Linked DNA regions of Homo sapiens. The protein of the gene in region 4 purifies or fractionates together with the protein of the main gene of each other region. This does not show direct contact. Each region holds a gene or a part of one and is shown on either strand. Other genes may lie near its edges.

Region 1 (3,500 bases), on a different chromosome or scaffold from region 4:
CATAAAGCCTACTGCCTTTTTTTTTTAAAGATGGGGGCAGAAGAAGATGGTTAAGAAAGAATGGAAACAATCTGAAACTTACAGTTGACTTGCAGAGCTAATCCTAATTTTTATTATAATGACCTTAGGGTTATCAAAGAACAAGTCTCTTGAAAAATGGAAACTAATAAGAGTGTAAAATTTGTATTTACTCTAAATTTTAAATTTTTATAACTTGACTTTTTCTCATAAAAACAGAATAAAGGAGGCTGGACGCAGCAGCTCACGCCTGTAATCCTAGCACTTTGAGAGGCCAAGGAAGGCGGATCACTTGAGTCTAGGAGTTCAAAACTAGCCTAGGCAACATGGCAAAACCCCATTTCTATTATTTAAAATTAAAAAATTAATTTATAAATTAAAAATAAAAATGAATAAAAATAAAATAATTGAATAAAAGATTGACATAGCTCTCCTCAAGTTATCTCCTCAACTCTAAAATCTTTACTACTTAAAAAGCAACCTCGGCCGGGCGCGGCAGCTCACGCCTGTAATCCCAGCACTTTGGGAGGCCGAGGTGGGTGGATCACAAGGTCAGGAGATCGAGACTATCCTGGCTAACATGGTGAAACCCCGTCTCCACTAAAAATACAAAAAATTCTCCGGGCATGGTGGCAGGCGCCTGTACTCCCAGCTACTTGGGAGGCTGAGGCAGGAGAATGGCGTGAGCCCGGGAGGTGGAGCTTGCAGCGAGCCGAGATCGTGCCACTGCACTCCAGCCTGGGCAACAGAGCAAGACTCCATCTCTAAATAAATAAATAAATAAATAAAAAGCAATCTCAATATTTTTCAGAAACTCCAGTGCTTCAATCTATTCCTCTCTCTATCCAGATATTAAATATTAAATTTTAAGGTATGAAAAAAAACCTCTTCACCATTTGAAGAATTTGTGATCTTTAATTACAAAATTATATACGATTAAATTATAATATACAATGATAAATTAAAAATTATACAGTCAAAAACCCTCATTTGATACCAGATTACAATTTTCTTCAAGTTTTTCCAATGTAAGCAACATTAAAAATGTTTTATGTTGGCCGGGCGCGGTGGCTCACGCCTGTAATCCCAGCACTTTGGGAGGCTGAGGCGGGCGGATCACGAAGTCAGGAGACCGAGACCATCCTGGCTAACATGGTGAAACCCTGTCTCTACTAAAAATACAAAAAATTAGCCGGGCGTGGTGGCCGGCGCCTGTAGCCCCAGCTACTCAGGAGGCTGAGGCAGGAGAATGGCATGAACCCGGGAGGCGGAGCTTGCAGGGAGCCGAGATCGCGCCACTACACTCCAGCCTGGGCAACAGAGGGAGACTCCATCTCAAAAAAAAAACAAAAAATTTTATATTAAAACATTTGTAATCCACAAAGTCTGAATGAGTAAAATTAGTATTTGCATGACAAATTTTCTAGTGAAACTCATCTACATCACCATTTCACAGTCTGAAAAATAGCTGGAATAATAGGTAAATATAGAAGTAATAATAGCAATCCAATCCAAAATATGCCGACATTATTATGGACATTAAGTTTCTGAAGTTAAGCTCTACAACAGATGTACTATCTAGAGATAATCCTTTCCAAAATAATCAAGACTCACTTTCACTGCTATCTGGTAAAACTTGAGGTATTCTTTTGACTCCTTGGCATGATTCTCACACAATAGTTATTGCAATTCTTCTACCTCCTTAAGGTCCCCAATCCTCATTCACTAAACCTCATTCTAAGGATATCACCTGAGAAAGTCATTGGTTTCTTCATATTCTTACCTCTCACAATGTCTACTTTCACTTCTATCGCACCTCAGAGAAAGAGATCTACCTCCTTTCTAAGGTTAACTCCTTAGCCACAATAAATAAGCCCATTTCTTCTTACCACTTTCTGGAAATAACTGCAAATCGTTATTCCTTCAACTCTCATATTTTGCTCAGTACCATCCTTCCCTTCCCACTGGCTCCTTCCTGTCTCCAAACAATCCAAAAACAAAACACAACAAAACACCCCTTACTTTAGATTGTATTATATTTATTTCCTTTCACTGATAAATGTTTGGTTTGTTTTTGAGACAGGGTCTCACCTTGTCGCCCAGGCTGCAGCGCAGTGGCATGATCATGGCTCACTATATCCTCACACTCCCAGACTCAAGTAATCCTCCCACCTCAGCCTCTCAAGTAGCTGGGACCAGAGGCTCTTGCCACTATGCCCAGCTAATATCTGGGGGTGGCGGTTGGGGGAAGAGAGAGGCTCTCACTATGATGCTCAGGGTGGTCTCAAACTCCTGGACTCAAGTGATCTTCCTGTTCCTTTCTTGGCCCTCCAAAGTACTGGGATTACAGGTGTGAGCCACTGCGCCCGGCCTGTTTTGAACACGCCATCCGTACGTTTTTTTTTTTACTCACACAGTTATTATTTTCAACACATCTACTACATGCTTAATACCGTGAAGCCAAAGAGAAGTAGAAACAAGACATCTATGGCATCATCACAACTAGGGATACAAGATACTGTTATATGTGATTTAAGTGATGTCCCTGCAGAACAATCTTTGTAACAAAAACATACTGAGAAAAGCACACAGCATCTATGTTCTCTTTAACCCTCTATAATTGGCTTCTTCCTCTAACTCGAGCTGTATACCCAGATGTCACTAATAAACTTCTAATAACCAAATTCAAGTCTTTTTCCAGGCCGGGCACAGTGACTTATGCCTGTAATCCCAGCACTTTGGGAGGCTGAGACGGGCGGAATACTTGAGGTCAGGAGTTCAAGACCAGCCTGGCCAACATGGTGAAACCCCATCTCTACTAAAAATACAAAAATTGGCCAGGCATGGTGGCAGGCACCTGTAATTCCAGCCACTCGGGAGGCTGAGGCAGGATAATTGCTTGAACCTGAGAGGCGGAGGTTGCAGCGAGCTGAGATCGCGCCATTGCACCCCAGCCTGGGTGACAAGAGTGAAACTGTCTCAGGAAGAAAAATAAAAGTATTTTTCCCCCTCAGTTCTCATCATCCTTGCCTTCTCTACAAGTATTAACACTGGTGATGCAACTACCACCGTCAAAACCTTTTCTTACCTGAAGTATTCAGAATACCAATCTCATCTTTATACCTTGAAATCTATGATGAAGACATGTTTGTAACAAATGATTTTTTCTAAAAATCAAAATGATTAAAACCCAGCCTTGTCAACTGGCTCCTCTGATTGCCCCCGTCTACCTTTAGAAGAATATAATTTCTGTTTCTCTCCCCTCCTAGCCCCCACCTCCAGGTGACTGAGGAACTACTTCCATAAACAGACATCTCAGATGTTTTCAATTCCTCCCATTACCACCCATATCCAATTAATCTTTAAAGTATCTGCTTGAAGTTGCTCCACGTAAATGCCTAGCCTATACAAACACATGGCTCCCACCCTACTCAGAACTTGTATAATACAAATCTTTCAAGAGACAAGTAATTAGATATACC
Region 2 (3,500 bases), about 15 Mb from region 4:
GCCCACCCTCCCTCCCCTCCTCTCTGTTCTCCATCACAGGTCCCTGATGAAGACAGGCCACAGGTAAGGAAGGTATGGAAGTGGCAGAGGTGATGTCAGCACAGTTGAGTTGCTTCTGTTCCCTCTGAAATGCTGGAGGACACAGATGTACACAGTGCCTCATCTCAGGAAGCACAGACATGCGCTCCTCTTCCCACCAGAAGAGCAAGTCATCTCAGGCCCCATTCTCTTGGCAGCAGTCCTCTGCACTGTGCCTGAACTCCCAGTGGCAACTGCCCTTAATCCTTCCCATTCCGTGGTGATGAGCAGAGGTGGGAGGGAGAAAGCTGGACAGAGAAAGGGAGAAGGGAGTGTGTGTGTGTGTGTGTGTGTGTGTGTGTGTGTGTGTGTGTGTAGGGGGAGGAGCCCAGGAGAGCACAGCCATGGGTGAGGGGCAGTGACTCACAGCTTTCAAGATGCTGACAGCCTCCTTGCTGAGCCAGACTGGGTACAGCACGTCGTCATGGAGGATGGACTCAAATAGGTCGTCCTCATTGTCGGCCTCAAAGGGAGGCTGTCCAGCCATCATCTCGTACATCAGCACCCCCAGGGCCCACCAGTCCACGGAGGGGCCATACTCCAACTCCTGCAGGATCTGTTCAGGAAACCAGCAATGTCAGGCACCATCAAAGGCTCCCACCCCAGTGACACCCGTGCTACGAACGCCCATGGGAAGGACTTCAATTCCAACTTGCTCCTCCCTACAGTTGAGTCCTAGTCCTAGAAGTTCTAAATCAGCAAATTCAGTGACAGTTGAGTTTGGAGGCACTATGCTGGGGGCCAGCTATCATCTTTCCAAAGTCAACATCGACAGTCTGTCTTCCAGTGGGAACAAATTCCTATTTCTTTGAGCACCAGATAAAGTTCCTGACTGGCATGAGGGCCACATTTTAAAAAACTGCATATTTTGACACTAAAATCAGGGTCAGGGGAGCACGATGCATACTGAGAGAACAAGCTGTAAGTGACTCAGAGTGCAGCGAGGTCAGGTCTCCCATCTCACACAGTCCAGGGCACAGCTCACTGCCTGAGTGGAAAGGTGAGCAGAGGTCTTCTTTAAATGGTGCAACACTCAATTTACCTGAGCCCTGTGCTCCTGGAGAGGAAACTGCAATGAATAAGTCTCCCCCACCCTGTAATGGTCTCCCTATAAAGGACCACTATACTCTTGCATATTCTAAGAAAAAACCCATCTCTATTGTTCATCATGATTCCCATAAGATCCACTGAAGAATCCCCCACTTTGCCTGCCTCTACAAAACCGTAGGCCCCCTTCCTTTGGGGCCACCTTCACTAATGAACCCCCTATTGCAATAGCCAGAATCGAACCATCTCCTTGATTGTCTGGTGCATTTTGTCTTTGACAATGGTCACTTGTCTTATCTATGCTGTCTCTCTTTTTCCTCTAGCCAAATATGTAGAGTCAAATTCACTTAGATTAAATGCATGTATGACATGATGCTACTGAATACAAGACATCTTTTCTGGCTGGGCGCAATGGCTCACACCTGTAATCCTAGCACTTTGGGAGGCTGAGGTGGGAGGATCACTTGAGTCCAGGACTTCGAGACCAGCCTGGGCAACATGGTAAGACCCTGTCTCTTAAAAAAAATTAGCTGGGCATGGTGGTACGTGTCTGTAGTCTCACCTTCTCAGAAGGCTGAGGTGGAAAAATCACTTGAGCCCGGGAGTTTGAGGCTGTAGTGAGTCATAATCATGCGACTGCACTTCAACCTGGGTAACAGAGTGAGACCCTATCTCAAAAAAAAAAAAAAGGATCTTTTCTGATTGGCTATTCTATTTGATCTGCTCTCCATACACATATGTCATAAATACATGATACACACACACGCACATATAAATATGTAGCATGTCAATGACATATATATATAAATACATATATATAAATACATATATATAAAAATACATATATATATATATGGAGATGACATCCAATAGAAAAGACTAGAATTTAATATCACCTTTCAGCTGTATAGAGCTTTGTATTTTACAGTATGCCTTTAAAATATAACATATATAAATAAAATAAATATGTAGCAGATCAATGATGTGTTTGGCTCAGAGGAAAAATAAATGCTGAGCTGTCCACTCTACAAGGAAGAGATCATGAGGTGACATTCCCATTCCACAATTATTTTCTCTTCTTATTAGAGTGGGATTAGGCATGGCTCTGCCCAGAAACAGGAGGGTGGATGAGATGACCTATCCAGGTCCATAATTCTATAAAGAATTTTAAAAAGGGAAGGAGAAACAAGGTTGGAGTGCATATCCTGCAAGGGGGAACACTTTGAGGACCCTGAAAAAAAAAGGCAAAGTTCATGCCTAGTCATTCCAGCCCATGGGACACCTTGGGCAGATAATATCTCAGGCTGGGGACAAGGCTCCAATTTAGTTCTCAGATTTCATGGTGGCCAGGGAAGAGGAGGCTGAATTCAAGTATCTGGACTTTCTGTGGTCTGCTCAAAATACCCTTCTAGAGGTTACAAATTGCTTAGGATGAACTAGAAAGATTTGGATAGAAGAAGCATTTAGAAACAGTTAAAACACTCACAGTTTAGAATCTTCTGAATTTGGAATGAAAAGGAATTTGAGAAAATGCAGCCAACTCTACATTACTTGGGGCTGGTAATCTGTTTAGCTAATACCTTTGGTCTAAGCCCAGTGGTTAGTGTTCCTTGAGCTGTAAGGTCAAAGCTATGGGCTCCACTGTCCTGAGGAGCCAGTGATTCTGCTATGCTCCAAAGCCAATGCCAACTCCTCCCTCAACCTCAAAAGACACAGCGCCCAACTTAAGACCCCTGCCTGTTCCTACGAGTTGCAGGCACTTTCTCACTTTCCACATACCACTACGTCGTTAGTTATTTTTTCATGGCCAGCGGTCTCCCCAGTGCAACTATAAGGTACCAGAGGGTAGGAGCTGTAACATGCTACTGAGCCCAGTGCTGTGGCCAGCCTGTTCTATCATCCAGGAGACAGTCAACATCTTGTGACTGGCTAGCATGCATGGCCACTGTGTGTATCTACTGGGCATGCTCCCTTCTCTTCTAGCCTCAGGGCACACTGGGTGCTACAGTGGCTGCCCTCCAGCTTCTCGGAAGGAGGCAGCTGGGTTCTGTGCCTTCAGGGGGTGGGGAGAAGGTGGCTTGTGTGTGCTGAGACTGGATGGTGCTGTGGAAACCACAGAGCCGCCCTGCCACCCCACTCCAGGCCCCTTCCACAGCCTTCTCATTTTGGGTGGCATCTTTTGTAAGATTCCTTTTAGGCTTGGCTCTAATTATCTGCTTCCTAATTAACTGTCGGCAGTGGATCTGGGCAGAAGGGCAAGGCTTCCATGTCACGGGAAGTCACCTGGAGCCAACCCCTCAAGTGCGTCAGAGCTCGGGAGAAGGGAGAAGGGAGAAGGCATTGGCCCTGATGATGCTATTACCAAAGGCTGGTGG
Region 3 (3,500 bases), on a different chromosome or scaffold from region 4:
GGGGCCCAGCTGCCCTCCTCCCCATACGGCCATACGGCCCTGGCTCTCAGGAGCCACAGGAACCCTCCAGACAGCCTGTCTCTGGTTACCATGAAGACAGCTGACCCAGCAGGGGTCAGTCCATTTACAGCGACCCCCGGAGACTGGCTGCCCTCCTGCTCAATGGCTCCCGGGCGGGGCAGCCTGTGGATCCCGGCCAGGATGGCCCAGAGCTGATGGAGGGTCACACGGACACGGCTTCTTGGTCCCTACCTTTAACATTGAGAGTCTGGAGCTGGGTCAGGTTCCCAATGGAACGTGGGAGCTGCATCAGTTGATTCCTTTCCACGTTTAAGACCTAAGAAAGAGGAAGAGGCAGCCAGGCGCAGTGGCTTATGCCTGTAATCCCAGCACTTTGGGAGGCCGAGGCAGGTGGATCACAAGGTCAAGAGTTCAAGACCAGCCTGGCCAACATAGTGAAATCCCATCTCTACTAAAAATACAAAAATTAGCTGGGCATGGTGGCACACACCTGTAGTCCCAGCTACTCGGGAGGCTGAGGCAGGAGAATTGCTTGAACCCAGGAGGCAGAGGTTGCGGTGAGCTGAGATTGCACCATTGCACTCCGGCCTGGGCAACAGAGTGAGACTCCGTCTCAAAAAAAAAAAAAAAAAAAAAAAAAAGAAAGAAACAGGAAGAGGTGACACGAGAACCCACACACAGACCACAGTGATGACCCCCGCACCCCTCGCCCTGCCGGGCCAGGGCACCCAGGCACTACACACACAAGCTCTTATCTCCCCCTACCGGCCCTTGAGGAAGACAGAAATTCTTGTTTCCGCTGGAGACAGGAAAAAAACTGAAGCTCAGGGTGGCAAAGTCACGTGCTCAGGAGAGCACAGCCAGGCCTTGAACCCCTTCTGGCTGAGGTTCCAGCACTTACACCGACCACAAAATGCTCAGTAACTGCCCCACCATCAGGGAAGGAGGGAGAAGGGGACTACAGACTTGGGGATCTGGGGAGGCAGCACAGGAGGCTCTAGTTCCCCTGGCCTTAAGGAAAAGGCTGCCCTAAGGCCGTGTGATCCACCCAAGGCCTCAGGCCGGCAGTGGTGCTGGGACTGAACCAGGGCTTGTTGGATTCCGAAGCTGTGCTCCCTCCAGAAGGTGGTACCTCGAGGTGAGCAAGGCTAGCAGGATGACACACTAACCATTAAAAATAGATGCAATGGGGGCCAGGCACGGTGGCTAACACCTGTAATCCCAGCACTTTGGGAGGCTGAGGTGGGTGGATCATGAGATCAGGAGATTGAGACCATCCTGGTGAACATGGTGAAACCCCGTCTCTACTAAAATATAAAAAATTAGCCAGGCATAGTGGTGGGCGCCTGTAATTCCAGCTACTTAGGAGGCTGAGGCAGGGGAATCGCTTGAACCCGGGAGGTGGAGATTGCAGTGAGCCGAGATCACACCACTGCACTCCAGCCTGGTGATAGAGCGAGACTCTATCTCAAAAATACAAACAAACAAAAAATGATGCAATGGAAAGCTAAGTAGCCATTAAAAATAATAAGATGAATATTTGATGAACCAAAGGATGCTATGAGTTATTGTCAGGTATCCAAAAGTTACAAATTAGTGAATGCAGCAATTCTATAAAAATACACCTACTGGCCAGGTGCAGTGGCTCATGCCTGTAATTCCAGCACTTTGGGAGGCCAAGACGGGTGGATCACCTGAGGCCAGGAGTTTGAGGTCAGCCTGGCCAACATGGTGAAAACAAGTCTCTACTGAAAATACAAAAATTGTCCAGGTGTGGTGGCGTGTGCCTGTAATCCCAGATACTCAGGAGGCTGAGGCATGAGAATCTCTTGAACCCGGGAGGCAGATGTTGCAGTGAGTTGAGATGGTGCCACTGCACTCCAGCCTGGGTGACAAGAGTGAGAAAAAAAAAATACACATACAAAAAGTCCTACACCAAGGTATTTATTGTGGCTCAAAGTGGTACAATTGGTCAGGCGTGGTGGCTCACACCTGTAATCCCAGCACTTTGGGAGGCCAAAGTGAGTGGATAACTTGAGGTCAGGAGTTTGAGACCAGTCAGGCCAACAAGGCGAAACACCATCTCTACTAAAAATACAAAAACTAGCTGGGAGTGGTGGCACACACCTGTAATCCCAGCTACTAGGGAGGCTGAGGCAGGAGAATCGCTTGAACTCGGGAGGCAGAGGTTGCCTCTGCAACTCTGATGGCGCCACTGCACCCCAGCCTGGGCAACGCAGTGAGGCACTGCCTCAAAAAAAAAAAAAAAAACCCCAAAGGGCCAAGGGGAGGGTGGAGCTGGCACTGATTGCAGCCTGCTTCCACTGGCTGGAGCCCGGCCAGAACATTCCAGGCTTGAGTGACTGCCTGGTCTCACTAAGGCCATCCGAGGTGGGTTTCTGTTTCTGCAGCCTTACCTGGAGGGCAGTCAGCTGCCCCAGATCGTCAGGAAGGGCTGTCAGCTGATTATCGTGGAGATCTAGAACCTGCAGAAGAAAGACCCCTGTGAGTCTCCAAGTGAGAAAGTCCCTCAGACTCCGGGCTCCAGAGCGCTGAGGAGGGGCTGGGGCCACCTCACACCCCCAGTGCAGAAACAGAGTGCCTGCCACTCCTTTCCCACTCAGTGTTGATCATTCCCGCCTCATTTTCCTTCTCAAACCATTATACCATTTTCTTATTTTATGTATATTTATTTTTACTGTTAACTGAAAAACTATGCTATAAAACAGTATGCCTAGATACTAATATGTTAAAAAGAAACACTCCATTGTATAAATATGTAAGACTTTCAAATATGCGATAAAATATTGACAGTGGTACTCCACAGTGTAAAATTATAGATGTTTCCCCCTTTGCTTAACTGTACTTGCTAATTTTTAATTTAATTTTATTTTATTTTGTTTTATTTTGAGACAGAGTCTCACTCTGTCACCCAGGCTGGAGTGCAGTGGCACGACCTCAGCTCACTGCAACCTCCACCTCCTGGGTTCAAGTGATTCTCGTGCCTCAGCCTCCCAAGTAGCTGGGATTACAAGCACAAGCCAACATGCTCTGCTGGTGTTTTTTTTTGTTTTGTTTTGTTTTGTTTTGTTTTGTTTTTGAGACGAAGTCTCGCTCTGTCGCCCACGCCGGACTGCGGACTGCAGTGGCGCAATCTCGGCTCACTGCAAGCTCCGCTTCCCGGGTTCACGCCATTCTCCTGCCTCAGCCTCCCGAGTAGCTGGGACTACAGGCGCCCGCCACCGCGCCCGGCTAATTTTTTGTATTTTTAGTAGAGACGGGGTTTCACCATGTTGGCCAGGCTGGTCTTGAACTCCTGACCTCAAGTGACCCACCCGCCTTGGCCTCCCAAAGTGCTAGGATTATGGGTGTGAGCCACCACGACTGACTGCTAATTTTTTAAAAATGAAAATGCACAAAAAAGGCCTTGGAGAAATATTTATACATGTGCACACACAGGTACCCTCCATATCTATGGA
Region 4 (4,254 bases):
TTTGAGAATCACAGCTCTATGATGATGGAGTCTTACCTGTATCAGTAAATGACTGTATATCATATGTCAAGTCTATGTTGACACTTTCTGCATTTTCTACTCTCCGAAAAATTATCCCAAGGAACCACATTGATACGTAATTGTTGCTATAAAGTAAAATTTAAGAATTTCCATTAATTATTATTATTTTTTACAACTTTACAGATGCTATTTCATAATTAAAACTTGGTCTCTATGTCTCTATCTCACAAATACAGATTTCAGTGGTCTGGCCAGATTCTTAAAAGTGACATCCAGAACTGGTAAGTTATCCCCTGTTGTTCTGAGAAGGATTAAGCAGCTATGAAAATGACTTACTAAATATATTCTTAAAGATGCTCCAAATATTGTGATGGTGTTTTGCTGGGGTTTGTGGGCTACCAAAGTAGTTATGTACTTATTTTTAATGCCTAGACACTCAAACTCAAATATATAATGTGTCATACTCCCATCAATGCCTGTTAAACAAAAATCTCACAATTACTCTGAAATGATGCATATACCAAATAACATTATTTAAGAAATAAAGTATTATAAAACAATTAACTTACTCTTTATGATGTTCCTTATTCCCTGGGAATGACTGGGGATTCACATGGGCAAGAGTAATAAATTCATTCCGTTCCAAGTTTCCAACAAGTACACGGATTTTAGATTCTACTAATCCAACCCTAAAATAAACAACAAACACAATTTATCTTATGTCCACTTTAAATTTGAAAGCTACACTCAAGTAAACCAAACAGCATATTAACTACGAAGCTTTACATGTTCATTAAAAAACTTCGGGCTGGGCATGGTGGCTCACATCTGTACTCCCAGCACTTTGGGAGGCAAGAGTGGGTGAATCGCCTGAGGTCAGGAGTTCAAGACCAGTTTGGCCAACACGGCAAAATCCCGTCTCTACTAAAAATACAAAAAATTAGCTGGGTGTGGTGGTGAGTGCCTGTAATCCCAGCTACTTGGGAGGCTGAAGCAGGAGAATCACGTGAAACTGGGAGGTGGAGGTTGCAGTGAGCTGAGATTGTGCCACTGCACTCCAGCCTGGGCAACAGAGCAAGACTCCGTCTCAAAAAAAAAAATTTCAGGCCAGGTGCAGTGGCTCATGCCTGTAATCCCAGCACTTTGGAAGACTGAGGTGCACAGATCACCTGAGGTCAGGAGTTCGAGACCAGCCTGGCCAACATGGTGAAACCCTGTCTTTACTAAAAATACAAAAAAAATTGGCCGAGTATGGCGCACACCTATATTCCCAGCTACTCAGGAGGCTGAAGCACGAGAATTGCTTGAAGCTGGGAGGTGGAGGTTGCAGTGAGCTAAGATCACCCCACTGCACTCCAGCCTGGGTGACAGAGTGAGGTTCCATCTCTAAATAAATAAATAAATAAAATAAAAATTTCAGCCCAATATATTAGGAACCCCATTTTAAATGCAATTGTAAACACAATTGATTTTATATCAACTTTAAATATGAAAGCTACACTCAAGTAAACCAAACAGCATATTACCTATGAATCTTTACATGTTCATTTAAAAATTTCAGCCCAATATATTAGGAACCCCATTTAAAACGCCATTGTAGTAAATGACAAGTTAGTAGATTTCTGTGTGTTCTTTTTTTTAATAGAAGAACTAATCTATGTAATGCATTCCTGAATCTAAAATACCCTTAGTTAAGACTATAAAACAGTCATGGCTTAGGGCATGAACAAAAACTGCTGGTTTATCTAGTCCTGAATCTTTTTCTACCTTCAAATCTTATGTCTCAAACCTAAGGCTAGGCTAGGCCAGGTGCGGTGGCTCATGCTTGTTAATCCCAGCACTTTGGGAAGCTGAGGCGGGAGGATCACGTGAAGCCAGGAGTTCGAGATCACCTGGGGCAACATAGTGAGATTCCATCCCTATAAGATAAAAAAAAAAAAAAAAATCAGCCAGGTATGGTAGCAAGGGCCTGCAGGCCCCAGCTACTTGGGGAGCCGAGGCAGGAGGCATCGCTTGATCCCAGGAGTTTGAGGTTGCAGTATGATCACCCCACTATACTCCAGCCTGGGTGACAGTGAGACTCCGTCTCTAAAAAAAAAAATAAATCCTAAGGCTAAGATAAGTTTAAACAATGAAACTAATATTGGCACATAATATATGAAACAATCATGCTTGACTTTGCATTTAAAAAAATTCACGGGCTGGGCACGGTGGCTAACGCCTGTAATCCCAGCACTCTGGGAGGCCAAGGTGGGTGCATCACGAGGACAGGAGATTGAGACCATCCTGGCTAACATGGTGAAACCCCGTCTCTACTAAAAATACAAAAAATTAGCCAGGCGAGGTGCGGGCGCCTGTAGTCCCAGCTGCTTGCCAGGCTGAGGCAGGAGAATGGCATGAACCTGGGAGGTGGAGCTTTCAGTGAGCTGAGATCGCACCACTACACTCCAGTCTGGGTGACAAAGCAAGACTCCATATCAAAAAAAAAACAAAAAACAAAAAAAGAATTCACTAAATTTGGATCACATCCTATTAAAATACAGCAAGTCTCATCGGATTTCTGCAATTTTATTTCTATCTCACTTAAGAAATGTGACCGATGGCAGCTTGCTTATTAATGACTTTATGAATTAGAAACATTACAAGAACATTTTAACATTTTTTAAAAACATCAGCAAAAGCTTATACATTATAATTATGTGTGCTTTAACAGTAAATCTACAAAAATCTGTGTTATTCCAGTGTCATCTAAATGACGGGTTGGCAAACTTTTTCTGTAAAGGGCTAAATAGTAAATTTTAGGGTTTCTGGGCCATACAGTCTTTGTTACACCTATTCAACTTTGCTATGAAGCACAGAAGCAGCCATAGATAATATATAAACGAAGAAACATGGCTATGTTCCAATAAAACTTTATAAAAATAGGTGGCAGACTGAATTTGGCCTAGACCCTATTTTCTGACTGCAGATCTAGACAAACAAAATACTGTTTCAGTGACAGGATTATTTTCAGAGTTCCTTTAATTACCAATGAAATAAGGATTAAACTCTTGAAGCAAAAATAAAACAGTATTGCTGTTTTGCTTTTCCAGAAGTCAGACCCAAGGAAAGTACAACCATCTCTGGTGGTCTAACAGCTTCCGTCTGATAGAGCCAAGGATGTGAATATAGTAGAGGCAGAAGGGATAAATTTAGATGCACTAGAAAGAACACACTACTTCTTGACCACAAATATCTCTTACCTGTTGACGGAAGCTTAATCTGAAAGATTTAAGCCATTATCTCCTAAATTAAAAGGATATACAAAATGTCTTTTCTACTGAGTTTTGTTGGAGGTAAACACAATGGCAAAAATGAAAAACTCAGGCCGGGTGTGGTGGCTCACGCCTGTAATTCCAGCACTTTGGGAGGCCAAGGCGGGTGGATCACGAGGTGAGGAGTTCAAGACCAGCCTGGCCAAGATGGTGAAACCCCGTCTCTACTAAAAGTACAAAAATTAGCTGGGCGTGGTGGTGGGTGCTTGTAATCCCAGATACTCTGGAGGCTGAGGCAGAGAATTGCTTGAACCCGGGAGGCGGAGGTTGCAGTGAGCTGAGATCACGCCACTGCACTCCAGCCTCAGCAACACAGCGAGACTCCGTCTCAAAATAAAAAATAAAAACAAAGAAAAGAGAAACTCAGATGGTAGCTATCAGAATCATCCAAACTAGCTCAAAATTTTGCTTAAATCTGGCTGAGAAGCAATAAGAAGCAACATCTATACATGTGTCTTTTGCTCATGTCCCTCCTGATTCTGAAACATTAATTTGATGGCATATTTTAAACACTGAAGCTCCATGGTCATGCACAACAATCACCAGTAAGATATAATAATTTTACGGATCACTTGAGGTCAGGAGTTCGAGACCAGCCTGGCCAACATGGTAAAACCCCATCTCTACTAAAAATACAAAAATTAGCCACAGGGCATAGAAGTGCACACCTGTAGTCCCAGCTACTCAGGCGGCTAAGGCAGGGGAATCACTTGAACCCAGGAGGCGGAGGTTGCAGTGAGCTGAGATTATGCCACTACACTCCAGTCTGGGTGACAGAGGGAGACTCCTTCTCAAAAAAAAAAAAAAAAAAAAAAAAAAAAGGCCGGGTAAAGTGGCTCAGGCCTGTAATCCCAGCACTTTGGGAGGCTGAGGTGGGCGGATCACCTGAGGTCAGGAGCTCGAGATCAGCCTGACCAAC

What was found.
Region 1: the proteins of PAPOLG (region 4) and HNRNPR fractionate together in Homo sapiens (co-fractionation; one large-scale study listed by BioGRID). This does not show direct contact.
Region 2: the proteins of PAPOLG (region 4) and PRKCE purify together in Homo sapiens (affinity purification with mass spectrometry; one large-scale study listed by BioGRID and IntAct). This does not show direct contact.
Region 3: the proteins of PAPOLG (region 4) and LRSAM1 purify together in Homo sapiens (affinity purification with mass spectrometry; one large-scale study listed by BioGRID and IntAct). This does not show direct contact.

What each region holds. Positions count from the first base shown.
Region 1 is NC_000001.11:23,323,785-23,327,284, forward strand, and holds part of HNRNPR (heterogeneous nuclear ribonucleoprotein R), read right to left. Parts: intron 1-3,500. UniProt on the Homo sapiens protein: Component of ribonucleosomes, which are complexes of at least 20 other different heterogeneous nuclear ribonucleoproteins (hnRNP). hnRNP play an important role in processing of precursor mRNA in the nucleus.
Region 2 is NC_000002.12:46,148,175-46,151,674, reverse strand, and holds part of PRKCE (protein kinase C epsilon type), read right to left. Parts: intron 635-3,500; coding exon 446-634; intron 1-445.
Region 3 is NC_000009.12:127,458,010-127,461,509, reverse strand, and holds part of LRSAM1 (E3 ubiquitin-protein ligase LRSAM1), read right to left. Parts: intron 2,508-3,500; coding exon 2,439-2,507; intron 338-2,438; coding exon 253-337; intron 1-252.
Region 4 is NC_000002.12:60,783,403-60,787,656, reverse strand, and holds part of PAPOLG (poly(A) polymerase gamma), read right to left. Parts: intron 711-4,254; coding exon 591-710; intron 147-590; coding exon 37-146; intron 1-36. UniProt on the Homo sapiens protein: Responsible for the post-transcriptional adenylation of the 3'-terminal of mRNA precursors and several small RNAs including signal recognition particle (SRP) RNA, nuclear 7SK RNA, U2 small nuclear RNA, and ribosomal 5S RNA.